Linked DNA regions of Homo sapiens: all the other regions are reported to be linked to region 3. The links are microRNA targets in miRTarBase. Many come from high-throughput screens and were not tested one by one. Region 3 holds a microRNA gene; each other region holds the end of a gene's coding sequence.

The links. Region 3 holds the annotated microRNA hsa-miR-7158-3p (CUGAACUAGAGAUUGGGCCCA, at 2,165-2,185, shown strand). A microRNA usually pairs through its seed, bases 2 to 8, with sites in the 3' UTR of a target mRNA and lowers its output. Matches are read on the target gene's strand: a 7mer-m8 pairs with bases 2 to 8, a 7mer-A1 pairs with bases 2 to 7 and ends in A, and an 8mer does both.
Region 1: miRTarBase lists TRIM72 as a target of hsa-miR-7158-3p. Seed matches in the 3' UTR shown: 7mer-A1 at 6,147-6,153.
Region 2: miRTarBase lists PIGG as a target of hsa-miR-7158-3p. Seed matches in the 3' UTR shown: 7mer-A1 at 1,348-1,354.
Region 4: the mRNA of HARBI1 is a reported target of hsa-miR-7158-3p. Seed matches in the 3' UTR shown: 7mer-A1 at 5,479-5,485.

The regions. Positions count from the first base shown.
Region 1 is chr16:31,224,016-31,231,136 of GRCh38, reverse strand. TRIM72 (tripartite motif containing 72) reads right to left here. Exons shown (of 7, transcript NM_001008274.4): 7 at 1-6,956. The coding sequence ends at 6,382. Among named protein-coding and RNA genes, the nearest start is that of PYDC1, 10 kb to the right of the region's middle.
Region 2 is chr4:538,745-545,865 of GRCh38, forward strand. PIGG (phosphatidylinositol glycan anchor biosynthesis class G (EMM blood group)) reads left to right here. Exons shown (of 13, transcript NM_001127178.3): 13 at 409-1,456. The coding sequence ends at 625. Among named protein-coding and RNA genes, the nearest start is that of TMEM271, 34 kb to the right of the region's middle.
Region 3 is chr2:5,972,548-5,979,668 of GRCh38, forward strand. It overlaps MIR7158 (microRNA 7158), which reads left to right and starts at 2,115; the gene lies at 2,115-2,185. It overlaps SILC1 (sciatic injury induced lincRNA upregulator of SOX11), which reads left to right. Exons shown (of 2, transcript NR_026832.1): 2 at 1-7,121. RefSeq lists enhancers at 1,682-2,183, 3,063-3,716.
Region 4 is chr11:46,597,728-46,604,848 of GRCh38, forward strand. HARBI1 (harbinger transposase derived 1) reads right to left here. Exons shown (of 3, transcript NM_173811.4): 3 at 5,134-6,182. The coding sequence ends at 5,803. Among named protein-coding and RNA genes, the nearest start is that of AMBRA1, 7.3 kb to the left of the region's middle.

The DNA.
Region 1 (7,121 bases), not on the chromosome of region 3:
CAGGAGAATGGCGTGAACCCAGAGGGCGGAGGTTGCAGTGAGCCGAGATCACGCCACTGCACTCCAGCCTGGGAGACAGTGAGACTCCATCTCAAAAAAAAAACAAAACAAAACAAAAGAGGCAACCTAGTGGGGCTCTCGTTGTTGTGAGATCCAGGGTTGCGAAGATCAGTGAGATTCTGAATAGAGAGCTATTGACGCATAATAAGGTCTCAATAAATTTTCTTTTTTTTCCTTTGAGACAGAGTCTCATTCTGCAGTGGGATAATTTAGGAATCAGAGAGACCAAGAGGTTGAGGAGGATACTTATTATTTATTATTTAGTTAGGTGCACTGGCCCGGTCAGATTAACATCCAAAAAGACTGAGCCCTGAACAAAGAGTCCGGTTACCTTTTTTTTTTTTTTTTTTTGAGGCGGAGTCTCGCTCTGTCACCCAGGCTGGAGTGTAGTGGCGCCATCTCGGCTCACTGCAAGCTCCGCCTCCCGGGTTCAGGCCATTCTCCTGCCTCAGCCTCCCAAGTAGCTGGGACTACAGGTGCCTGCCACCACGCCCGGCTAATTTTTTGTATTTTTAGTAGAGACGGGGTTTCAACATGTTAACCAGGACGGTCTCGATCTCCTGACCTCATGATCCGCCTGCCTCAGCCTCCCAAAGTGCTGGGATTACAGGCGTGAGCCACCACGCCCGGCTCCGGTTACCTTTTAAGCATTTTGTGGGGCAGGGGGAGATCTGTGCAGGGGGAAGCATATTACAGAAGCAAGAAACAAAGACAGTTATTCAGTTGAGACATGCATTACATCATTTTTTACTTTTCAAGGAAAAACATGTTTTATGACTTGAGTTTATCTGCCTAGTGACCTTGCAGCTGCACAGCTAGAGAAACAGGGTCTTCACAATGCCTGGGAAAGGGAGAGAGATAAGGCTCACTATCCACAGAAAAACAGGCAGTTAATTTTTAAAGGACTTTAGCTCTTTCTCTTCCTCAGGGTGAATGGGGTTTTCTTACATACAACTGAGTTTTTGCTTACACATTCTTTAATTTCTTTTAATTCCTGTTTTAACTCTCTCACCCAGACTGGAATGCAGTGGCCCGATCTCAGCTCATCGGAACCTCTGCCTCCCAGGTTCAAGTGATTCTCCTGCCTCAGCCTCCTGAGTAGCTGGGATTGCAGGCATGCACCACCATGCCTGGCTAATTTTTGTATTTTTAGTAAAGATGGGGTTTCACCATGTTGACCAGACTGGTCTCGAACTCCTGACCTCAGGTGATTCACCCGCCTCAACCTCCAAAAGTGCTGGGATTACAGGCGTGAGCCACTGCACCTGGCCACGATAAATGTTCTTGCTTGCAGTTTTATCATGGCCTTGGCAGGTTCAAGTTTGCTATTATGCTACCTAAAGATGTCAGGAAACACAGGAAATGTCTTGGCAGCCAGTTTCTGGGGGTTTCCAGCGTTCCCGTGGAGAGGAGGGACTCACGGAGGGGACGCTGGTGCTTTAGAACACATGTGCTGGAGGAACTCCTTTCTCTGTTCACATTTCACCTTCCTACATCCCCAGGGAGACCCTGCCTGGGTCAGGCAGCCCCACCCGACAAGGACCACCTGGATTACGCAGCTTTTCCCACAAAGCCCACCTCACTCAGTCAGCCATGGGCCATTTCCTTCAATGCATGCAGCTCAAGCTGGGGCAACTATACGCAGAAAGAACCTGTGGCAGCTTCGAAAGAAAGTTTCCTGATATAATTCCAACAAAAGGCAGCATACATTACTCAGCTCTGCAGGGAGACTAAAGCCAGCCCGGGTCCCGGAAGGCACAGGAGTGTTTGGACGGTGGCTCTGGCTGCCGGAGACGCCACAAGAGCCTTCCCTCCCTCCCTCCCACACGAACAGCAGACTTGCGACACGGTCTGATGGCCCTCCCCATCTTCCCTCACATGGGCATCTTCCCTCCTAAAATCTCTGCCCATTTAATCCTATCTTGGCATCTGCTTCTCAGAGTACCCATTTCCTCAGAAGGAGGCTTTGGGTCTCAGATACCACCATCCCTCCAGACACCATGGCCTGTGTGTAGACAATTCAATGCCGTGGGCTACACATGGTGGAGGAGCTGCTGGGCGATCCAGAGAGGAGAGTAACTGATTCTTCCTGGAGGCCTAGAAGGTCAAGAGAGGACAGGAAATGGTGGTGTTTTGGGAGAGCCATGAAGGATAAGTGGGAGGGAACTGACATTCCTAAAAAAGAAGTGCAGGGGCCAGGCCCGACAGCTCATGCCTGTAATCCCAGCACTTTGGGAGGCTGAGGCGGGCAGATCATTTGAGGTCAGGAGTTCGAGATCAGCCTGGCCAACATGGCAAAACCCCGCCTCTACTAAAAATACAAATAAAAATGAAAAAACTAACCTGGCGTGGTGGTGGGTGCCTGTAATCCTAGCTACTGCGGAGGCTGAGGCAGGAGAATCACTTGAACCTGGGAGGCAGAGGTTGCAGTGAGCTGAGATAGCACCATTGCACTCCAGCCTGGGCGACAGAGCAAGACTGCATCTCAAAAAAAAAAAAAAAAAAAAGGAGGTGCAGAGACCCCAGCAGTTCAGTTCAGCATAGCCAGAGTGTAGACATGCACAGGGCGGTGATCCAAGGTGAGGCTGGACACAGCCCACAGCCCACAGTCTACAGGGTGAGGAGCAACACAGGAGACCACAGGTCCCTCCCTCACTGTGGCCAGTCCTTAGCCTGAGCAATGACAGAGAGTTCAGTGACAGTCAATGGACAGCAGCCTTTCCCCAACACTAGGATCCCAAAGAGCTTTTGTTATGTGGTTTTATCTTTCAATATTTGCCCTGTTAGATATTAAAACAGAGAACTTTTCTTTTTAAGATGAAGCTGGGGCTGGGCGCGGCGGTTCAAGCCTGTAATCCTAGTACTTTGGGAGGCCGAGTTGGGGGATCCCCTGAGGTCAGGAGTTCGAGACCAGGCTGGCCAACATAGTGAAGCCCCTGTCCCCACTAGAAATACAAAAATCAGCTAGGCGTAGTGTCACCTGCCTATAGTCCCAGCTACTCGGGAGGCTGAGGCAGGAGGATCACTTGAACCTGGGAGGCAGAGGTTGCAGTGAGCCAAGATCACACCACTGCACTCTAACCTGGGTGACACGGTGAGACTCCATCTCAAAAAATAATAATAAAATAAAAGATGAAGCTGGGCTGGGCTCAGTGGCTCACACCTGTAATCCCAACACTTTGGGAAGCCAAGATGGGAGGATCGCTTGAGGCCAGGAGCTCGAGACCAGCATGAGCAACATAGTGAGACCTCATCTCTACCAAAATACAAAAAATAAAAAATAGTCAGGCATGGTGATGGGTGCCTGCCATCCTATCTACTCAGGAGGCTGGAGTGGGAGGATCATGTGAGCCCAGGAGGTCAAGGCTGCAGTGAGCCACAATCACACCATTGCACTCCAGCCTGTGCGACAGAGCAAGACCTTGTCTCAAAAAAAAAAATTGTTTTTTAACTAAAAACAGATGAAGCTGGAAGGCCAGCCTGTAATCCCAGCACTTTGGGAGGCCAAAATGGGTGGATCACCTGAGGTCAGGAGTTCGAGACCAGCCTGGCGGGCACCTGTAATCCCAGCTACTCGGGAGGCTGAGGCAGGAGAATCCCTTGAACCTAGGAGGCGGAGGTTACGGTGATCACACCACTGCACTCCAGCCTGGGCGACAGAGCGAGACTCTGTCTCAAACAAAACAAACAAACCAACCAACAAAAAAAATGGCAGAACAGCTCAAATGCTAAGCCAAAGACTGGGGGCTTTATCCTGTAGGCAAGAGGGAGTTGTTGAAAGTTTTGAGCAACTGAGTCCCGTGACCACATTTGCATTTTTGGAAACATTACCAAGTCAGGATTAAAGGCTGGAGGGCAATTAGGAGGCCTTGCAGTAGGTCACATGTCTTTTCATGTGGATTTAATGAGGAAGGAGTCAGAATATAACAGTTTTATTAATGGTGTTGGATTTTACAACCAAATAATCCCTTAGCTATATTGTTTTATTTTCTAACATGAAAGAGCTTCTACCGTTAATCCTCTCTTCTGTCTCCTGAAGCCAGGGCTCCACAGGCCTTCCTCTGGGAGACACACCCAGGTGTGCCGCCTTCCCCTGCCAGATCCTCAGGCCTTTCTTACCCAACTCACAACTTCCCTTTCACCCTTAGTCCCATACCCACCATCTCCCGAGAAAACCTCCGCAATGGGCTGCCGGGGCCCCAGGCCCTTCCACCCATCCCGCCAGCACACCCTCCCCGTGAAAATGAGTGACCCCAGGCCAGCGTCTTCCCTCAGGAGAGAAGCCTGTCTGGATCCCCAAAGGCCTCTCCCTCCAGGGAAGAGGGACTCTCACTCTGGCCTCAGTGGTTACTCCAGAGCCCAAGAAATGCCCTGTGCGCTAAAACCAAAGAAGGTGTGAACCAGCAAGTAAGTGGGGAGCGGCCAGTTCTGGGACATCTAGTTGGGGGCCTTCTCTTCCCCATGAGCAGCAGGGACCAGTGTGACCTTGGCATCAGGCTCTTTCTCTTGGCTGGCTTCCTCAACGTTCAAGACGCTCGATAAACATATCCCAGAGGCAAAGCAAGTTAAGTCGAGGGTTGTTTATTCACCTAGAATCAGCTCCAGCCATTTTCCAATGTCTTCTTTTTGTTGTTTTTCTGGTTTTTGTTGCAACAGGGTCTCACTATGTTCCCCAGGCTGGTCTCAAACTCCTGGCCTCAAATGAGCCTCCTGCCTCAAACTCCCAAAGTGTTGGGTTTACAGGCATGAGTACCCAGCCCTTAAGTGTCTTTGCTTTGGTTTATGTTTGTTTGTTTCCTTCCACTCCTGGTGCAAACCTTACATGTTTTTGACTGGGGAAACATATTTTGGACCTATGCCTCTACACTGACAGTGAAGAGCCCAATGGGTTGTGCACTAGGTCAGGGCTTCCCGCAGCGTCAGCCCCTGTGGCCAGCAGCGTCACCTGGGAACCTGCTAGAAATGCACATTTTTGGCAGGGCGTGGTGGCTCACACCTGTAATCCCAGCACTTGGAAGGCCAAGGCAGGAGGATCACCTGAGGCCAAGAGTTCAAGATCAGCCTGGGCAATGTAACGAGACACCATTTCTACAAAAACTAAATTAAAAAAAAAAAAATGAGCATTTTCAGCCAGGTGCAGTGGCTCATGTCTGTAATCCCAGCACTATGGGAGGCCAAGGCGGGTGAATCACTTGAGGTCAGGAGTTCGAGACCAGCTTGGCCAACATAGTGAAACCCCTACTAAAAATAAAAATAAATAGCCAGGTGTGGTGGCGGGCGTCTGTAGTCCCAGCTACTTGGGAGGCTGAGGCATGAGAATTGCTTGAACCCTGGAGGCAGAGGTTGCAGTGAGCCGAGATGGCACCACTGCACTCTAGCCTTGAGTGACAGAGCAAGACTCTGTCTCAAAAAAAAAAAAAAAAAAAAAAAAAAGAAATAAAAAAAAGAAATGAGCATTTTTGACCTGTCCAACCTACTAAATCAGAAACTTAGCACCCTATGCTTTAACAAGTCATGGCTAAGGGCTTTAAAAAGGTGATTTTAATGCATGCCTAAGGTGGAGAACTAAGGAGAAGGCTTTTGGGTAAGGTGAATCTGGAGCGGGGGACCCAAGGCCTAAGGAGGAGGGGAGTGTGAGGCAAAAGGAGCCCCTTATCTACAGGTTCTCAAGCTCCTCCCATCAATCCCCCAACCTGGCCCTGTCCCTCCCTCGCTCAACCTTAGTTTCTTCCTGGAATTCTCAGGCCTCCTGGTTCCCAAATTCTGATTTCCCCACTGACCTGACTCCAGATCTCCCTACCCCACTGGGTCTTGTCCCCAGCGTCACTCCAACCCCTCACCAGCAGTCCCCAGGCCATGCCAACCCCCACACTTTTTTTTTTTTTTGAGACAGAGTCTCACTCTTGTCACCCAGGCTAGAGTGCAGTGCCGCAATGTCTGCTCACTGCAACCTCCACCTCCTGGGTTCAAGCAATTATCCTGCCTCAGCCTCCCAACTAGCTGGGATTACAGGCGTATGCCACCGCGCCCAGCTCATTTTTGTATTTTCAGTAGAGAGGAGTTTCACCATGTTGGCCAGGCTGGTCTTGAACTCCTGACCTCAGGTGATCCACCCGCCTCCGTCTCCCAAAGTGCTGGGATTACAGGCATGAGCCACCAAGCCAGTCCTACCCCACGCTTGTCAGTATTCTGGGAGATCCCCCAGTTCCCAGCCCCCTGGGCCCTGGCAACCCGCTCCCCACCCTTCTCCCGTCAGACCCGACCAAGGAGACCTAAGCTTCAACCCAGGCCCCCGCGCCCCTCCACTACCCGTCCGGCGGCTCAGGCCTCGGCGCCTTCGGGACCCACGAGCAGCAGCGGCTGGGCATTCTTGCCCTTGTCGTGCCAGCACACGTCGAAGAAGGGGTACACGGGCCTGGGCAGGCGCTCGTGGAAGGCAAAAAGCGGCACGAGCGCGTCGGCGTCGCTGGCATCGTAGAAGGAGAGGACGCCGTCGCCGAAGCTCAGGTAAAGGCCAATGCGCGTGGGCCGCCTCTCGGGGCTGCGCAGAGCGCGCGGCTCCTTGGCCTCCACGTGTGCCTCCAGGATCTTGCCCTCGCGCAGCCCCAGCAGCCACAGGCCCTGCGAGGGCACCGCGTGCAGGCGCCCGCGGCGGGGGGCCTCGGCCGCGATCACGCCCAGCGCCCAGCGCGGCTTGTCGCCAACATCCACCTCCCAGTAGTGCTCGCCCTCGGAGAGCTGCTGGTGCGCCACCACCGCCACCGCCTTGTCGAACTGGCGCGGGTCCTCCCCGGCCGGCGGCGCCTTCTGCTCCGAGCACTCCACGCGGCGGCCAGAGGAAGACACCACCAGGCTCGGGTGCGCAGAGCTCGGGTCAAAGGTCAGCTCCTCCAGCGCTGCCAGAGAGAACACGGTCAGAAAACCCTAGGTTTCTGCCTCGCTGGGGTCTTCTCCCAACCAATTGCAGGCCAGCTTTCTCTCCCCTAATCCTCTTGGCATCTCTGCTCACTGGGCTTGGGCCACAAGATCACACCTGGCTCAACTTCAGTTTGCCCAGCTGT
Region 2 (7,121 bases), not on the chromosome of region 3:
CAGCACATACTGTAGGTGATTTTTACATACAGTCAAGTTTCAGAAGCATTTCTGGAGAGCTCAAGGTGTGTGTGGGGGGGGACATGGTGGCCCTCACCCATCCTTCTGTTTGCTTCATTTTTCTTCATGAATTTGTCTCTTCCTGACATGTTACATATCTGGTTTCTCCTGCCTCCTTCACTAGAACACAGCCTCCAAGGGGGCAGGTTGGGTTTTCCCGTCTCCAGCGCATCTGGAGAGGCACCTGTCCCAGCACCATAGTGACTGGATGTGTGTGCAGAAGAAGGAACGCGGTGCCCTCTACTCCAAGGGCAAGAGCTACTGGAGTCTTTTTGAAAATAAAAGTGTTGTTACATGTGTGATATGTAAGTGGCATGTGCTAATACACATTTTCTTTCTTATTAACAGTGGTTCAGCACTGAGTCATGCTTGCTTCTGCTACGCACTGATTTGTTCTATTCCAGTTTTCACGTACATCGTTTTGGTGACATCTCTGCGTTATCATTTATTTATATGGAGTGTATTTTCTCCAAAACTTCTCTACGAGGGAATGCACCTGCTCATTACAGCTGCTGTCTGTGTATTCTTCACGGCAATGGATCAAACCAGACTCACACAGTCTTAGACTAAGCTGAACACTGGAAAAATAATACATGCTTAAAGTCTGCTGTTATTCTAAAATGAAAGATATGAATTCAACAAAGTTGATGGATAACTTTCTTTGACTGCTCTACCTGAATTTAGACTAAGCAGTAAATAGTTTAATAAAAGATCACTTTAATATACAGTTTGTATCATATTTTCCCCCATTGACAATCACTCTAGAAGCTTCTGAACTTTTAATTTCCTCTGAATAAGCTATGGTGTGACCCAAATATGTGTGTTTAAATCAATGAATGAAAAGGTTCTGGACTTTGTTAGAGTCCAGGAGCTCTGTGGGAGGAGGCACCCAGATTACCTTAGGGAGCACAGAGCTCTTAGAATCCTACAAACCACTGAGGGCCCCAAGGCGCTTTGGTTTATGAGGGTTACATGTATCAGTGTTTATGGCATTTGAGATGAAAACTAAGATAAAAAAGTATTCATTTATAAGGAATCTATTGCATATTAATGAAACACTTGAAGGAAAAGTAACTATATTTTCCAAAACAAAAAAATTCAGTGAGACCCAGCACTTTGGGAGGCCAGAGTGGGGGTATCACTTGAGCCCAGGTGTTTGAGATCAGCCTGGGAAACATAGTGAGACCCTCATCTCTCCAAAAACTTCAAAAAATTAGCTGGGCGTGATGGCACACACCTGTGGTCCCAGCTACTCAGGTGGCTGAGGAAAGAGTATTGTTTCAGCCGAGTTCAAGGCTGCAGTGAGCCATGATTGTACCACTGTACTCCAGCCAGGACAACAGAGTGAGACTCTTGTCTTTAAAATGAAAAAATAAATGTTTAATGAGAAAAGTGATAATGTTTTACATTTTTACAAACCTCTTTAATGCCTGGCCTAATTGAAGCTAGTTGGATTTTGTGTTTGACCTGTTGTGATATGTGTGTTTGGTTACAATATAAGAAGAAAATCGGCTGGGCAGAGTGGCTCACACCTGTAATCTCAGCACTTTGGGAGGCTGAGGCGGGGGCAGATCACCTGAGGTCAGGAGTTCAAGACCAGCCTGGCCAACATGGTGAAACCCTGTCTCTACAAAAATACAAAAATTAGCCAGGCATGATGACAGGTGCCTGTAATCCCAGCTACTTGGGAGGCTGAGGTGGAAGAATCGCTTGAACCAGGGAGGCAGAGGTTGCAGTGAGACAAGATTGTGCCATTGCACTCCAGCCTGGGTGACAGAGTGAGACTCCATCTCAAAAAATAATAATTATTATATATATATGAAGAAAATCCAGCCTCAGATCAGTAGTTGGAAAGAGGAGGCATATTTTAATGTCCTTTTTCTGATTATTGTGGATGTTCTTTTTTGATACCAACACCAAATCTTTTTTGATGCCAACACCAAAACTCAACAAATGTTAGTTTGCTGAAGGTTAGTTGGACAAAAAGAAAAGAAACGAGTGCATATAAAAACTGGTGAAATGCTACTGAGGGCTGTATTCGAATTAATAGAATTGTGCCCACATCATTTTCCTGGTATTTATCTGGTTGTGTAAGATACCATCATTGGGGGGAGGTGGGTGAAGGATATGTAGAACTCTCTATACTATTTTTGCAACTTCTTGTGAGTCTTCAACTATTTCAAAACAAAAGTTATTTTGAAAAAGAAAAGGTTAGCTGCCATGTGGAATCTGAAATCATATCAATGAACTTTCATGTCCTGATGCATTACGACACATTGACCTGTCTTGCACCCTGAATGGAACTTTTACCCAGATGTGATTCTTAACATCTGCATTGTTGTTTGGAAAATAACAGTTCACTGGATGATAGAAATTTCCAAATGTTGTTCATTATTCCATACCAAAATCACTTATTTATATCACAACCGAGCTCATCAGAAAAGTCTTTAAAGAGTGAATGGTGGCTCACGCTTGTAATCCCAGCACTTTGGGAGGTTGGGGAAGCAGGAGGATCGCTTGAAGCCTGGAGTTTGTGACCAGCCTGGGCAATGTAGTGAGACCCCATCTCTAAAAAAAAAATTTGAAAATTAGCCAGGTGTAGTGGTATGTGCCTGTAGTCCCAACTACTCAGGAGGCTGAGGCAGGAGGACCACTTGAGCCCAAGAGTTCAAGGCTGCAGTGAGTTAGGATTGCACCGTTGCACTCCAGCCTGGGCAACAGAGCCAGGGCCCATCTCTAAAAAAATAAAAATGTGAAGAAAAAAAATCTCACCATCCAGAAGAAACAGTCACTAACAGTTAGTGAATACAGTTCACTAAATGGAAGAAGCAGGGAGGATGCATAGATGCATACATGAAAATCATACTATATATTTATAAATATTTTATATAAATATATATACAAATAATATATAAATATATATACAGATAATATTTATATAAATATATATGCAAATATATAAATATGTTCATGCAAATAATATTTTATATAAATATATGCAAATAATATTTTGTATAAATATGTATGCAAATAATATTTTATATAAATATATATGCAAATATTTTATATAAATATATGCAAATAATATTTTATATAAATATATTTATGCAAATATTTATATAAATGTATATACAAATAATATATAAATATATATTTATGCAAATATTTATATAAATATTTATACAAATAATATTTTATATAAATATATATTTATACAAATTATATATAAATATTATATATAACTTTTTAATCCAAAGTAGTTATATAAGTTTTTAATTTAACAGGAAAAGTGAAACCAAAGAAAAGGCTGAATTTTGAATAAATGTTTCTTCACTACAAGAAATATACAATATTCTTTTAAAATTAATTTCTTATAACATCTATTAAGAGAGCTGGTAGCTAACAGAGAAAGGGCAGCTTCTCAGGCAGAGGATACACAAAGCCTTGTTTCAATTGGAAGGCTGATTGTCCACATCAAAGAGTTTCTGCCTCTTCATATCTGTAACTATGGAATATTGATAGGACAATGCAATGACAAGATTGATACTGTTTTAAAGTATTGTTTATGCTATACTTTAATTCATTTATCCTCAGTGGAGCCCTGTGACCAAGTGGATTTTTTTTGTAACACCAATAACTTGATCAACTTTGACAATACAATCAAAAGATGTTTGGAGGGGAAAACACTAGAGGGATCATTACATGGTAAAGTGATTTTTCATCCATTCGGCCACTCTATGTCTTTTGATTGGAAAGTTCAATCCATTTACATTCATTATTATTTATAAGTAAGGATTTACTCCTGCCATATTACTTGTTTTCTGGTTGTTTTGTGGCCTTCTTTCTTGCCTTCCTGTCTTCCTTTAGTGAAGGTGATTTTCTCTGGTGATATTATTTAGTTTCTCACTTTTTATTTTTTGTGTATCCATTGTATGTTTTCTGGTTTGAGGCTACCATGAGGCTTGCAGATACTATCTTATAACCCATTATTTTAAGCTGGTCACAAGTTAGCACTGTTTGCATAAACACACAAAAAGACAACAATAAAAAACTCTAGTTTTTATTAGTCCCCTTAACGAAATTAGAAAACACCAAGCAGAAATTCTGGAGCTGCCTTTGTCCCCCTTAACTTTGTCCCCCTGCTTTTTAGCTTTTTGTTGTTTCTATTTATATGTTAATTGTACTGTCTATGTCTTGAAAAATTATTTTTTATTGGTTCATTGTTTAGTCTTTCTGCTTAGGATAAGGGTATTACACACCACAGTGGGAGTGTTATGATATTCTGTGTTTTTCTATGTACTTACTATCACCAGTGAGTTTTGTACCTTCAAAGTGATTACTTATTGCTTATTGACACCCTTTTCTTTCTGACTGAAATAGTCCCTTCAGCATTTCTTATAGTACAGGTCTAGTGTTGATGAAATCCCTCAGCTTTTGTCGGGGAAAGTTTATTTTTCCTCCATGTTTGAAGGATATTTTCACCAGATATACTATTCTAGGGTAAAACTTTTTTTCTTTCAGCACTTTAAGTATGTCATGCCACTCTCCTGGTCTGTAAGGTTTCCACTGAAAAGTCTGCTACCAGACATATTGGAGTTCCATTATAGGATATTTGTTTATTTTGTCTTGCTGCTTTTAGGATGCTTTCTTTATCCTTGATCTTTGGGAGTTTGATTATTAAATGCCTTGAGGTAGTCTTCTTTGGATTAAATCTGCTTGGTGTTCTATAGCCTGCTGGTACTTGGATATTGATATATTTCTCCATGTTTGGGAAGTTCTCTGTTATTATCCCTTTGAATAAACTTTCTGCCCCTGTCTGTACCTCCTCTTAAAGGCCAATAACTCTTAGATTTGCCCATTTGAGGCTATTTTCTAGACCCTGTAGACATGCTTCATTTTTTTTTATTCTTTTTTCTTTTGTCTCCCCTGACCGTGTATTTTCAAATAGCATGTCTTCAAGTTTATTAATTCTTCCTTCTTCTTGATCAGGTCTGTTATTAAAGGACTCTGATGCATTCTTCAGTATGCCAGTTGCATTTTTGAGCTCCAGAGTCTCTGCTTGAATCTTTTTAATTATTTCAATCTCTATGTTAAATTGATCTGATAGAATGCTGAATTCCTTCTCTGTGTCATCTTAAATTCATTGAGTTTCCTCAGCTATTTTGAATTCTTTGTCGGGAAGGTGACATATCTCGTTTCTCCATGATTGCTTCCTGGTGCCTTATTTAGGTCGTTTGGTGAGGTCCTGTTTTCCTGGATGGTATTGATGCTAGTAAAGACCACAGTTACTTTTGCACTAACCACAGTTACTTTTGTACTAACCTAGTAAAGACCACAGTTACTTTTGCACTAACCTAGTAGATGTTCTTCAGTGTCTGGCCATTGAAGAGGTAGACATTTATTATAGTCTTCACTGTCTGAGCTTGTTTGTACCCCTCCTTTGGAAGGCTTCCAGGTATCTGAAAGGACTTGGTGTTGTGATCTATGCTCTATCTGCCTTAGGGAGCACCCCAAGCCCAGTAACACTGTGCACCACCTTGATGGTCTTGAATAAGATCCAGGAGAACTCTCTGGATTACCCGGCAGAAGCTCTTGTTTTCTTCCCTTACTTTCTTCCAAACAAATGGAGTCTCTCTGTCCTGAGCCACCTAAAGCTGGGGTGGAGTGACACAAGCACCCCTGTGGCCACATCACTGACGGCACTGGGTCAGACCTGAAGGCAGCACAGCACTGGGTCTGTAACCACTCCCTGGCTGCTGCCTATGTTCACTCAACACCCTGGGGCTCTGCCATCTGCTGTTGGCAAAGCCAGCCAGGCCTGTGTCTTTCTCCTCAGGGTAGCGAGTTCCCCCAGACCCTGGATGGTCCAGAGGTGCTGTCAGGAACTAGGGTCAAAAACCTTGGAAGCCTACCTGGTGTTCTATTGTACTCAAGCTGTGCTGGCACTGAACCACAAGACACAGTTCTCCCCCACTCTTTCCTCCCCTTTCCAAAAGCAGGGGAGCCTCACCCCTTAGCCACCACCACCACGGGCCCTGGGGAGTACCGCCGGACCACCACTCACGTTCCCTTAAGGCCTGAGGGCTCTTCAGTCAGTTTGTGGTGAACGCTGCCTGGCCTGGGACTCACCCTTCAAGGCAGGGGGCTCCATTCTGGCCCAGGGCAGGTCCAGAGATGCCATCCAAGAGTCAAGTTCTGGAACTGGGGACCCCGAGAGCCCACCTGGTGCTCTGCCCCTCTGTGGTGATGCTGGTACCTAAAGGACAAGACAAGGTCCTCTGCTTTTCCCTCCACTTTTCGCAAGCAGAAGGAGCTTCGCCCTGCAGCACAGGTGGGAATGTGCCAAGTCTCACCTGAAGCCAGCAATTCTCAGAGGCTCACCAAGGCCCTCAATGTAGTACCTGGGTGTCGCTGCTGGTTATTCAGGGCCCAAGAGCTCTTCAGTTAGCAGGTGATGAATGCTTCCAGGACTGGGTCTTTCCCTTAAATGAAATGGGTTCCCTTCTCACCCAGGGTGTGTCTAGAAATGTCATCCAGGAGCTAGGTCCTAGAACAGGGCCTCACAAATCTGACCGGTGCCCTGTCCTGCTGTGGCTGAGCTGGTATCCGAGATGCCAGACAACGTCCTCCCCACTCTTCCCTCTTCTCTCATCAAGCAGAAGGAAGGAGGCTCTTTTGGAGCTTCGAGCTCTGCAGCCTGGGATTAGGGGAGGGGTGAGGCCAGCACTTCCTTGGCTACCCCAGCTGGTTTCTCCATAAGTTGCATGCCCCTTCAGTCCACTATCTGTGGGCCCAGTTCAGCACTAAGACTCACCTATGAGTTGCAGTACTTATGGCCTAGACTGCCTTTCAAATTTCTTTACAGACCTAGAGCACCTTAGCTCTTGTTGCTAAAGGTTTGCAGGAACTCAAGTTCCCCACCACTGTGATCAGCGATCCCCTCTGTCTAGGCATGGCTTAAATGCTCCCTCGGTGGGCAGGTGTCAGCTGAGCTTGGTCTGGCACTGAGTTCTATGTCTCTCAACTGCTGTGTTCTCCTCCCCCAGTGCCCACAGACTCTG
Region 3 (7,121 bases):
ATCTTGGGGAGAAAACAACTCTCTAGAAGAGTCTCGCCTTCAGTGAGTGACAAGATCTCTCCTGTCTCTCGGTTCACAATGTTACCCTAACTAATCCATCCTCTGATGTCACCTGCTAACAACTTCCCCTGTGGCATCAAACCAGTAGCCCATTTGCAGCTAGTACAAACACTTCTTTACATTTAAGTTTTGTTTACGAGATTTAGCCTACAATCATAGAGGCTGCCAGCTGGGTTTCAAATGTGTATGTTCCATTGCTAATAGGAAAAACTGCATCTATTAGAAAAATTCTCTCTGGGAGCTGAGCACAGAGGCAGGCCTTGTATTGCAAACATTTGAAAAGCCATAAGCAGGTATTCTGGACTGTGTTTTAGATCACCTGAGAACATTTCTTGAACACTAGTATTTGCTTAGAGTGACAAACCTATTAAGTGGTTCTTTCAGGTAAGTTTGCATCCAAGCAATGTCGTCTGAATCGCAGGAGGAAGTCAGGAGTTGTGTCTGGCTTTCTGGCCATACAAATGGCATATGGGAAAGTCATTGTATATTATTAATATCCTTTGATGTATATTATTATGACTTTCTCACGGTAGTAATGTTGTTGGTTTTTATTAATGTTATTTTTATAGCAATGCTAATATTATGAGCTAAAAGTTTCTGAGCATCTGCTGGGTGCCAAAAATTCTTATAAATGCTTTACATGCATTAGCTCCTAACAACACTTTGAAGTAATTCTTATTGTCCTTACTTGACATATACAGGAATAAAAACCTGACCATTAGACCGAGCGTGGTGGCTCACGCCTGTAATCCCAACACTTTGGGAGGCCGAGGCAGGCGGATCACCTGAGGTCAGGAGTTTGAGACCAGCCTGGCCACCATGGTGAGACCCCGTCTCTACTAAAAACACACAAAAAATTAGCCGGGCGTGGTGGTGGGTACTTGTAATCTCAGCTACCCGGGAGGCTAATGCAGGAGAATCGCTTGAACCCAGGAGGCGGAGGTTGCAGTGAGCCAAGATTGCGCCATTGCACTCCAGCCTGGGCAACAAGAGCAAAACTCTTTCAAATAAACAAACAAAACCTAAGCATTTGAGGGGTTTGGCCTGGGCAGTGGAGCTTGTGAGCTATATGAGCTGGAATCTGAGTCAAGGCTGGGCTGGTGAAAGGAGTTCACTCAAGTTCCCAAGGTATTCTGTCCTCCAGGACTCTGAATCACCTGGGAGGAGAAGGAATTGTGGCGGGCCTAACACCTTTTCTTTCCCAAACACCAAGAGCAGGTTCTTTCTGTTACATCCATTGAGGTCACATTCTTGAAGTGCATTTTGAGGAAGTCATTATTTTCGCTACAGCAGGGACTGATGTATCAGTCTATTAGAATTCAGAAAAAAGTAAGCAAACAAAAAACGTGTTGGAATTATTCTCTTCTAGCATTTTGAAATGTACAATGGTTAATGTTAACTATAGCCACCATGATGTATTGAAGACCAGGTCTTATTCTTTTTATCTAACTGTACATTTGTACCCATTAACCTAATGCTCATAGCATCAAGAAAAGATCAATATTTAAGGTGACAAATATCCCAATTATGCTGATTTGATTATATGAATGTGTTGAATTATCATATGTACTCCCAAAATATGCACATCTAAGATGTATCAATAAAAATAAAGACAAAAATTAAAGCTTTTACAGTAGAAAAAAGGTTTTAGAGAAATTATGATTACTTGATTCACCTAAACTGACAGTCTTGCTTGGAATGAATTACTGCTTTTTGTAACATAGTTTTAGAAGAGAGATTCACATTTAATGTTACTTTGTGCTAAGCACTGTAATCCATGCCTGGGTGCTCACAGCGCTCCTCTGGGACCAGGCATCACCATCTCCTCTGTAAAAGGAAGGTCAGCCTGTTGCCAAGACCACAGGATAAACGGCTTGGCTGATTTAGGAAACCCAGTTGGTCTTATGACAAAACATGCGCATTTGCCCTTCACCAGGTGATTTTTCTGTAGGGTTATCTTCAACAGTCCGACAAAGCTGTGTTCCACCAGCTCAGGCAGGCTGTGACCAGGATCACCAGCCATGTGGCATCAGGAAGAAGGGGCTGTGTGGCCAGGCTCAATCTCTGGTCCTGCAGCCTTCTGCCTTTGGCTTTCTGAAGCGAGCTGAACTAGAGATTGGGCCCAGCTCGGCAGCGCAGTTTCAGGAGAGCCAGGATACAAACCATCCCAGTCTCTGTTCCCACAAAGGAGAAGCTAAACCATTTTTTATTTGCCCATTCTAAGTGCTAAGTGATATGCAACTGCTTCACATAAGCCTTCCAGCCTTCCAGCCGACTCTGCTTTCAGGAGATATCCTTATGTCCCTTTTGCATGGCTTAGGAGAGTGAAGCACGTGAGAATTGAACGAGGGGTCAAGGGTCACATAACACATGAGCACGAAACCGGGACTCTCCTGGGGTATCAGACCCCAAAGCCAGTGGTCTGCGCTTGATCTTTGCTAACGTCCGAGAAGCAATAAGTCCAGGGCTCTTGACACATTATTGTGCATTTTACTTTGGGAGGGACTGTGGGTCCACTCTGCTTTTAACAGGAGGAAATTAAATATTTACATTTGATTCCAGTTTGGCCCCATGACTGTCCGGCTTCTTTCCTGTCAAAGGCCCAAATTCCCTGTTTTAAAGTAGAGGGTGAATTTGTGTAATGAGGATGGATCGGGCACGTGTAGAACACACTCTTTCACCTGCAGATTCACACTCCAAACACAAAGAAATACTGGATCATATATGGTATATTTTAAAAGATGCCATAGGCATACTTAAAAAGCACAACAGAATTCTATTTTCTCACGTCAGAGGGCAGAGTCTTATGAGCTATTGAGAGGAAAACTGTATCTTAGGGGTTGAGAGCCTAACGTCTGCTTGGGGGTGTTTGTGGCCCTGGCAGCTGTTGTGTGCAGTGCACATTAGAACTGAGCAGCTTTATAAAGCCAGGAACAAGGGTAGAGTCCCTGTGTCTCTGAATAGAAATTAGCGATGCTTAGCCTTCTGTACCAAGGAATGCATCACAAAAGCTAATGCTGGGACTGGGCCTGGTGTGGGATAGGAGTCACACAGAGGAGTCAGAACGCCAACTGTGGCTGGTGTAAGGGGCCTCCATTCACACTGTCTTTGCTGTTTGGAAAATCTGAGCAAGAATTTAAGGTAAAAGCTGATGTGGAACAGCTTGCAACCCAAAAGTCTCAAGCCCAGCATAAAAATCATTGCTCCAGTGAAGATGCCTGCAGAGCTCAAGGCATTTCTGAGACTCCATGGGAGAATGATTCCTAAGGAAGGTGTGCCCCCAGCACCTGTGGAGACTCATCACCTTGAGGGCAAACAGACTCTGTAAAAGGAGAATTCACCTCTAAGGAGCTGCAGACAATAGAGGGATTAAAATGGGCCTTTGATCATTCAAAAAGCATTTTAAAGGAAAAAATAAAGTAACATAATCCAAATTCCAACAGGAGACTTGAAAAAGAAGGTAATAACAAAATGGAAAATAAAGTCACTGAAATAAAGCAAGTGAGTTGGACTATGAATGTCTCCTGTCCATTAGCTGTGTCCCCGGCTGCAAGGTCCATGGGGACTGTGCCTCCCTTGACCTTGAATCTCAATGCCTTAGCAAAGTGCCTGGTTCTGGGTAGGTTCACAGTACACATGTACCTCCCAAATGGATGGATTGCCAACTTAAATGTTCATAGGAAGGTGCTATTTTCAGGCACTTCAGGTGTGGACATCGGTGTTGTCAGATCTTTTCTGTTCTAGCCAGGCATTGTGGACATCACCTTACTATGTGAGGGAACAAGCTGCATTGGTGGAGAGGAAACCAGCAGGAGCACAATAGTGACCCATTTCTCTTGTCTTATGCACTGCAGTGGAAATAGCCCAGTGTGCATGGTGGATTTTATTATGGTGCCAGTAGAAAGATAGGGGGTTTCCTCTATGAGCTGGCTGACTTACATGAGCTCATTCTCTGCAGCATTTCTCTAGCCATCTCCTGTCACATCGTTTATTGTGTTCACTAGTCCTGTGCTAACGAGGATCTTTGAAAAATGACTGGTATGGTAATGATCTACGGAACTTACTGTAGATAGCAATTAAATATCGTTAACGGCGGGTTACGCTGACACATTAAAAGGCCTACAGGCTGCGATTTATGAAGACAGCTCTGCTGCCTCCTTTGTATGTGATGCATTTCTCTGGTTTCGGCTTAGGCTGTCTGGTCTCAGAAGGGAATGATTTCCAGGCTTTCCCCATCATCACTCCAGTTGCCAGGCCACCCACAATCACATTAGCAAGCTTTATTGTCCCTATTGCACCTCCTAATGCCCTCAGGGTGCTTGAGGTAGCTTTTATCAAGGTAAGGCCTAGGTCAACATTTTGTTGTGCAGAAAAGGCATCTGCTTTCAGAGGAGAAAATTTAGATACAATATTGAGGTGAATCTTATAAGTGATGTAAGATAATTTGATGACAAGAATTGAGATTATATGCTGAGATCTTACTGTCTTAAACTTTGTTGATTTCTGAAAATAATAGAAATGCAATCCTAGCTAAAGGAAGAGAAGTAGTCTAGCTCACCAGTGGCCAGCAAACTCTGTAAAGAAGTATTGCCTTCATGCAGCAATCTCACCTAATATGAGACTCCAGATAGAAGATAGCTCCTGAGAAGTCAAAACACAAACCAATATCATGTAAATTACTCTCACGTGAAAAATAGACAAGAGATAACCAACCCAGTCCCAACCGTCTCACACCCCCACTGGCCTCCTGCACTCATGGATGCCACATTCTTCAACATTTGTACTTCTGTTAACAGAGTTAAAGTAGAGCAAACATAGGCTCTTTTACCAAGAGCGTATGGACTAAATACAGATGCAATGCTAATAACCACATGGGAAAAACAAGATCCTGAGACACTGTTATGTTTTTCTCCCTCTTTTGTGGCCAAGAGTGTGTGCTCTCTTGCCTTTGTAGATTTTGCTCACGTTTTTGGGTGATAGGACCAAAAGCAGTAGTGTCTAGGCCACTAGGAGACAAGGCAAACCATTATCTGTGAAAGCCTGGGTTTTCTGAGAGGAAGCATGCTGGACACTGCCAGTAGAGGGAGAAGTCATGGTGTGAAGTTTTCCATGATGAGAGATAAGGACAGCTAGGGCATGGGGATGCAGAGGATGTTCTTGTTGTTGATGGTGTTGTGGAGGTTGTACCCCAAGTCTCTGGGATAAGACAGCCCCATGCACATAGAGGTCATGAAAAATGTGAGGACCCTGGACACTGAGTGTCACGGCTTTGGGGACAGTGATGACATGTCCCTGTGTCCAAACAGCTCAGTCAGCTTATCTAAAAGGGATGGAGAGTACTTCTGTGGGAACAGTTGGAGCTGAAGAACAGAGAACATTTCCTTTGATGTTTGGACTCTACGGAATCTTTGGGAATTGTGTTCAAGTCCAGGAGGAATGGCTGAAAACATGATTGAGATAAATTTGCAGCCAGGAGGTTGAAGACAAATTAGGATCTGATTTTATTCAACTGGGAGTAACCATGGCCAAGCATAATTCTTCTGGTGGATTCTGAAGTTATTTGGAATTTGCCCATAAGATGAATTTTCCTGAAGAAGGAAGGATGTGGAGGCTGATACTGAGGCCCCATTTCCACATGTGAACTTCTAAGAAACCACAGCTTTCATCCAGAGTGGAGATGAATGGCACTGGGGTCCACGTTGCCAGAATGCCTGGGGACAAGGAATGAGGACTTGTCACCCAAGGCACGAGATCCATAGTGGCTACGGGAATGAAGCCACTGCCTTTGTGGAAATGACTAATTCACCCAAATCCAAGGTGTTTTCCACAACTGAGAGGCCTGGGCTGAGGATAGAGATTTGAGCCTTAACTGAGACATCCTACTGGGAAGTTGCATCAGTGGTCAGTATCTGAGGCCACAGAAAATGTCACATGATGGTGTGTCACAGGGCTCCACATTTAGGACATTTGTGTACTCAAAGAGAATCTTTGACGACCATGACTCAGAGAAATTTTTAATGACTTAAAACAGGTTTTGGATCATGTTGATGATGACAGATGGTGCAAGCCACCTACCTAAATCCCTCTGGGGAGGGGTGGTATTTCTGCATTGTTCTCAGAGCAGAAATGTGACATGGATGTGGAGGCTCTGGACAGTGAGATGTGAAGCTGGAGGCATGGCTTGGCCTCCCTAGAATGGGTGTGGCCAGGGCAAAGCTGGGACATCCTCAACCCAAAGGTTTGCATAACTGGATTTGAACTCCTTATAGATATTCCTAAACAGTGGTGATACGGAAGGGAGAGGAGGAGGAAAAAAGGATGGCTCTTCATCAAGAGCAAAAGCAAGAGATTCAGATAGGAGATTTCACTTGGCTTTTCTAGTCTTGGGTGGGGACCCATTATGGAAGTGAAGAGCTCTGGAATCTTCCAGAGAAACAAGCATGGGTATCCTTTAACAGGTCCCAGATAGCCAGTTACCGCAGAACAATGTCCTGTTACCAGAAGCTTATTGCAGACCTTGTAACCTGAATCATTGTGTTGGCCCAGGGCACACCCAGGAGGGTGGCTTGGGAAGGAGATTCCAGGCTGAGGTAAATACCGACATCTGATTTCCTGACATTGAGTAGGAAAGCATTTCAGAGACAAGCTCCAAGAGCTTTGGAAAGGGGAACATTCACCCACTTCCCACAATTTATAAGGGGGCTGGCAGTGGTTGTTTTGGGGAGGATAATAATGGGAAAAGAGAACGGGGTATGTTATGGCACACAGAACCAAAAATGAAGATTCCTAAGTAGTAATCTATTAGTGAGGGAATTCTTGGGCAATTTCAAAAAACTCAAAACGTGTTACAGAGAGGAGCCCCTTGGACTTTGTAGGAGACTCGTTTGTCTATCTGGCCCCAAGGCCCAGAAGTAGCTGACAAAGAGACCCAGTTGTCCCCTGGATGCCAAACTTGGGGAGAGAATGGTCCTGGGTGGCAGCCCCTCCCCATCCAGCCTCAGTCAGAGCTCTCCAGCAAGTCAGCCTGCAGGTAGCTATGGAGTTGCAGTGTAGTCCTGTTA
Region 4 (7,121 bases), not on the chromosome of region 3:
GAACAGGGAATTGGAGACTGTTCCTTATCTTGGCTCTGGGTTCTGAGAAACATGCCTCTACCACACACTCGGTGGTAGAAATCAGGTTTGACCCTAGCGTGAGATAATTCTGTAATGGTACCGTGAGTCATCTTACTAGGAAGTGCAGGAAGACCAGTCAGGCCTTGAACAGCTGAAATGGTAAGCCAGTTGTCAATTCTGCCATTGCAATTCTGTTCTGTTCTTTTCTAGCCGGTTCTTTTTGTGCTGTGGGGTAATGTATACACTTGATGATGGAATGGTAAAGGTAGTAGTATAGTGACGTAGGAGCAGCCCAGGGAAGGAGAGAGAGCCCAGAACAGCAGGGAACTGCTAGCCGTAGAATGATAGAAGGCTCTCCCTTCTTTGGAATTATTTCTATAAGATAAATCTCCAGTGATGAAATTTATCAATAGATCAAAATGTATGAATATTTTAAGGCTCTAGAATGACAAAGAAATCAGCCCATCTGTAAAAGACAGCATAAAGATTAGAGAAAGTTAACATGTCAACAGAATAATAGATCCTTAATGTTTTGCTGGGCAAACAGGGAGGCCCCTTTTTGAAATTTGCTAATTTATGATTTCAAAGTCTAATCTCCTTTCTCCTGTTCAGTATCCAGAGATCTAATTTCTTCTACTTTACAATCACAAGAGGCCTTCAGTTGTAGTCATTTTTTTTTCTCTTTTTTTTTTTTTGGAGTTTTGCTCTTGTTGCTGGAGTTGCAATGACAGGATCTCAGCTCACTGCAATCTCTGCCTCCCAGGTTTAAGTGATTCTCCTGCCTCAGCCTCCCTAGTAACTGGGATGACAGGCGCCCGCCACCATGCCCAGCTAATTTTTGTACTTTTAGTAGAGACGGGGTTTCACCATGTTGGCCAGGATGGTCTCGATCTCTTGACCTTGTGATCTGCCTACCTCGGCCTCCCAAAGTGCTGGGATTACAGGCGTGAGCCACTGTGCCCAGCCTGTAGTCATGTTAAAAAAAAAGTTTAGGCTGGGCACGGTACTTTATGCCTGTAATCCCTATAATCTCAGAGCGCTTCGAGAGGCCAAGGCAGGAGGATTGCTTGAGGCCAGGAATTCAAGACCAGCCTGAGCAACATAGTCAGACCCTGTCTGTACCAAAAAAAAATTAGCCAGGCATGGTAGTGTACACTTCTAGTCCTAGCTACTTGGGAGGCTGAGGTGGGAGGATCACTTGAGCCCAAGAGTTCAAGGCTGTAATAAGCTACAATCACACCACTGCACTCCAGCCTGGGTGACAGAGTGAGACCCTGTCTCTACAAAAGTTAATTTAAAAAAATTCAGGGCCGGGTGCAGTGGCTCACGCCTGTAATCCCAGCACTTTAAGAGGCCGAGGCGGACGGATCACAAGGTCAGGAGATCGAGACCATCCTGGCCAACATGGTGAAACCCTGTCTCTACTAAAAATACAAAAATAAGCTGGGCACAGTGGCACGTGCCTGTAATCCTAGCTACCCGGGAAGCTGAGGCAGGAGAATAGCTTGAACCAGGGAGGCGGAGGTTGCAGTGAGCCGAGATCGTGCCACTGCACTCCAGCCTGGGTGACAGAGTGAGACTCCATCTCAAAAAAAAAAAAAAAAAAAAAAAAAAAAATTCAGGGCCGGGCACAGGGGCATGCAATCCCAGCACTTTTAGGAGGCCAAGGCAGGCAGATCAATTGAATCCAGGATTTCGAGACCAGGTTGGGCAACTTAGCAAAACCCCATTGCTACAAAAAAAAAAAAAAAGAATTAACTGGGTATGGTGGTGTGTGCCTGTAGTCCCAGCTACTCGGAAGACTGACGTCAGAGGATCACTTGAGCCTGGAAGGTGGAGGCTGCAGTAAGCCGAGATCACTCCACTGTACTGCTCTAGCCTTGGCAACAGAGCAAGACCCTGTCTCAAAAAAAAAAAAAAAAAGGTTTTTTTTAGAACAAGGATTTCTGTGTGATTAAAAAAAAAGTCTATTAATTTTATGTGTTGGGAAACTAGCATGTCCCCAGCCTTCAGCTAGTATTTTTCCTTCCTTTCCACATAATCAACAAAGTCTTAATCCTGAATCTGTGATTTCTCATACCCACAACAATTTTGGAAAATCTTGGCAGGATCTAGAGAGCAAAATGGGCCCTGAGGACATGTGTATGCACAAAAACCCTTTCATTTCTTATTTTCTTGTCCTCCTTCTAACTTCCCCTCCACTGCCAGGGAAAGTAACTACGAAGCTCAGTCTTTGGGCTATTTTCCGTTTGTTTCAGATACAGATAAAATCTTATTATATCTATGATCTGTCTAGCCTCTTTCACCGTTACCCACTTCTTCTATGTCTTCACTACATGACTCCACTAAAATTGTGTCTTGTTTTTTATCCCTAAGTTAGATTAACTTGGTCTAGATCCTTCACAGTCCTAGGATCAGGAAAACAGCTTCATCCCTATTCAGTTAACTTAAACCAAGAATATGTTTATGGTCCCTCTTTTGTATAATCTGGAATTGGTAAATTGGTGATCACCCAATATTGTTTTCCCTTGATATATCCTGAGACCTTACTGCCTTGAAACATCTAAGGGTAAATCTGGAAAACTACTATGCTGGCCAGATGGAGTTATCTATGGGAAAATGAGGCTTACGTAAGACAGACAAAATCCTTGACTCTTTCCCAAAACCATGCCAGAAAAAAGCTATAAATCCACACTAAGGACCACAAAGGGAGCAGCTTTCTCAGACGCTTATAAAAAGCCCCTGTGAGGACACCCTTGGCAATTTGGAAGTACAGACCCTGATCCTTCCCCTCCATCATTTTGGGGAAATAACTAACCAATGACAAAAGAAAAAAAAAAATCCTGGCCTGCAAAACCACAGGTTGAAAGGAGGTTAAAGGTGTAGATCTGAAGAGTTTCCCTGTGGGATTATTAGAAAATAAAATGCTCCCAGGGAAAAACACTGTCAGCCAATGTTCAGCCAGCTCAGCACTTAGATTATCTTTGGTGTGCAAGTAAACAGACTTGAAATTGCTTTTGAAATCTCTCCAAGACTGTCCATCCCACTCAGTCTTTTATGTCACCATCTAGTGAGTTAAGTTGTGAAAAACTCCAATTTTCCTTAAATATAGTTATACAAGGCTAAAATGCAAGGCATTTTCCATGATCACACTTCACCTTGCCACTTATGATACATGTTGGGCAGTAACCCTTTCCTGATGCGATCTACCAAACAGAACCAAAACTTTATGGGGAAAATACCCATCTTAGAAGACTTAAAAAGGAAAGACCTTAAGAATTAAAACATTGCCTTATGAGGGAAACAAGTTGAACTTTACAAAGAAAAAAATGTTAACCGGGCACCTCTGTTGCACAATGAATAGAGTTAATGTTTCTAGCCAACTCTTCGTTGTCCATTCCCACCTCAATGACATCCCTGTGCATATTAAGCACAATCTTCTGCCAAATGGACCCACTCTTTATAGAGCAGGATAATGATGGTGAATAGCATTTGGAGTAGAAATAAAACAGCAGATAATAATCCATAATTGTTTTTAATCTTGAGGATGAGTCACCCTCAATTTATTTCCAAATTTCTTCTGTCATCAGCTGTTCATTTCTTTACTTTGAAAATCACCAGATTAACACTGCCAAAGGCAAGAGGTAGGAAATGATCCAAGAGGACAAGTCAGAGGTATCACATGGTGAGTGGCTGAGAAACTGGAACAAGACAACCCTCAGGAAAGTCTCTTTTTTGTCCCAGCAAAGGCACCAATGTGTGAACCTAATTCACACTTTCATTATTCTAATCAGGTTATTTTTATATCAGTGTAATTTTAGAACAAGACTTGCTAGGGGATTATTTATTTCTTAGGAAATTCTGTCCATCACTCTGCATATCCAAGGTCTAGCACCAGAATTCATTTCAAGCCAAGAAATTATATTCCTATTACCTCTCCTTTGTAATACTTTCACATGCCTTCTTTATTCCCTGAATCTTCCTTTTGTACAACGAATTTCAAAACAGAATGACCAGACTTTCTAACATCACAATTATAAGAAATGTGATCTAGTTGAATGTGAGGTGTCTGAACCTGGGTGAATCTGCATTGCTCATCAATCTCTCTCAGTCCTTAGAACGCCTGTAAAGCATAAGCTTGCTATTTTATCTATATTCGAATTGCCTTTTTTAAGCTGATTGGGTTCTCAAACCCATTTAGCCTCTAACTCCGAGTCAGGGTTGGAAATAGGAAACTGGAGTCCAGATGTTCTCCCTAGGATCTAGGTCCAAGTCACAGTCCAATTATTGCAGACAGGCTAAAGATGGAGGTTTCTGACTGTCTTTAACATCCTCTTAAAAGCACAAAGCTGCAAACTGAGATTAGTAGCCATTTACTAATGTCAGAAGATCATTCCCCAACTGAAATTCTCTCTTCACATTTGCCTCAGATTATGCCTATATAGGCAGCAAAGTAGAAAAACTAAAATACCACCCAAATAATCCAGAACAAGTAAATATTGTTTTCTTTCTTTTTTTTTTTTGAGACAGAGTCTCGCTCGGTTGCCCAGGCTGGAGTGCGATGGCACAATCTCGGCTCGCTGCAACCTCTGCTTCCTGTGTTCAAGTGATTCTCCTGCCTCAGCCTCCTGAGTAGCTGGGATTACAGGCGCGTGCCACCACGCCCGGATAATTTTTGTATTTTTTAGTAGAGACGGGGTTTCACCATGTTGCTCAGGCTTGGTCAGGCTGGTGTCGAACTCCCGACCTCAGGTGATCTGCCCACCTCGGCCTCCCAACGTGCTGGGATTATGGGATTATAGGCGTAAGCCACCACACCCGGCCTATGTAAATACTGTTTTCATCTGAAATCTGCAGATAATTGAAACCAAAAAAGTGTTTTGACTATATGCTGTTTTCCCCTTTACTATGAGTTTTTTTTTTGTTTGTTTGTTTGTTTTTTTGGAGAAAGCCTTGCTCTGTCACTCAGGCTGGAGTGCAGTGGCATGATCTTGGCTCAGTGCAACCTCCGACTCCCAGGTTCAAGCGATTCTCCTGCCTCAGCATCCCGAGTAGCTGGGATTTCAGGCATGTACCACCACGCCCGGCTAATTTTTTTTTTTTTTTTTTTTTGAGACGGAGTTTCGCTCTTCTTGCCTAGGCTGGAGTGCAATGGCACGATCTCGGCTCACCACAACCTCCGCCTCCCTGGTTCAAGTGATTCTCCTGCCTCAGCCTACCGAGTAGCTGGGATTACAGGCACCTGTCACCACGCCCAGCTAATTTTTTTGTATTTTTAGTAGAGACAGGGTCTTGCCATGTTGCCCAGGCTGGTCTTAACTCCTGAACTCAGGTGATCCGCCCGCCTCGGCCTCCCAAAGTGCTGGGATTACAGGCGTGAGCCACCGCACCCGGCCGCTAATTTTTGTATTTTTAGTAGAGACGGGGTTTCACCATGTTGGCCAGGCTGGTCTTGTCTTGAACTCCTGACCTTTACTATGACTTTGTAGGCACAGTCATAAATGTTTGCAACCACTGAGCTTTCAAATTAGTGGTACTCAACCTAGAGTTCACTGGATAGTAGGGAGCCGCTGTCTTGGTTTCAGTTTAATTAATGCATATGCAAATGAATCAAGATATTCTGGCATAGCCCCAACCTTACCAAAACACACATATTAAATGTCAGTTTATGACAAGTATCTGTATACTCAGTCATGCTAGATGATGGAACTGTGTAAAAGGTGATGAGGAGGAAAGTCTGTCACAACTCCTGGGAAGTATCCCTCCTCTCCACCTTCTACATTAGCTAAAATGAGTGAGCATTAGCTCCTGACGAATACGGTCAGCCTCTAAGTCCAGGGACTCCATGTGCTCATACTCCTCTTCCGGGGGCTGTTCCATGGGTCCTGTCATTGGAGAGGACCAAACATCCATCCCATGCTCCAGGGAGATGTTGTGGAGGACACAACAGGCCAAGATGATATGGCTGGATTTCTCTGGTGAGTACTGCAGTGCCCCCTTGGATCCATCCAGGCAGCGGAATCGGGAGCAGAGGGTTCGGAAAGTCTTCTCAATCACACTGTGAGTTGCAGAATGGGCCATGTTATAGCGATATTCTGCTGGAGTTTCAGGAATGTGAAGTGGGGTCATGAGCCAGGTTCGAAGAAAGAAGGAACTGTCACCTGTGGGGAAGGCCCAAATAAATCATAAATGACTATAAGTGGAATAGAAACAGGAAGTGAAATTCAGAAAACATATACTGACAATGGACAAGAAAATACAACAGCCTCTGGCGCCAAAGCACACTAGAAAAACCAAGCGGAAAATGCTATGGTAAAAAGAAATCATGCCAATGCCAGGAGCAGAAAGACACGAGTTCTGGCTGAGAATGTCGTTGGTAAAAATCGACACATAAAAACGCTGGCACCTAAAGGAAGCCAAATATGAAAGAATGTAGGAAGGAGGTGAAGGCACTGGAGGAAATAAAATTCCTGCATTTGGCCGGGCATGGTGACTCACGCCTGTAATGACAGCACTTTGGGAGGCTGAGGCGGGTGGATCACCAACTGAGGCCCGGAGTTCAAGACCAGCCTGACCAACGTGGGAGGCGGAGATTGCAGTGAGCCAAGATCACGCCATTGCACTCCAACCTGGGCGACAAGCGCGAAACTCCATCTCAAATAAAATAAAATTCCTGCATTTTCCTAATTCAGAGATATTGTTATTAATAAAAGGCTTAATAAAACCAAATAAAATCAAATAGCATGCCAATCTTCAAAATCTCTACAGAGCAAGAATGAAACAGGAAAAAAGAGAATTCTGCCAAGAGATCCCAAAACACTTGTGAGGGGAAGTCTTAACTTTACCCTCAAAATTTCAAGTCTAAAAGCACTACCAAGGGATTTCAGGGGATTTCATGGACTACAGTAATTTATTCTCCCAGTGCTAAGAAGAATAAGATAAAAGTCCGAGCACTTATGGCAGAGATCAGAACTCAGGTGTTCTGCCTTCCTATATATCACAATTACTAGAACCATGCCTTTGTAAGAGGAAGAATTTCACATGAACAAAGAGAGCATACATATAATCATGCAAATAGTAATAGTTGGTGATAAGGAAAT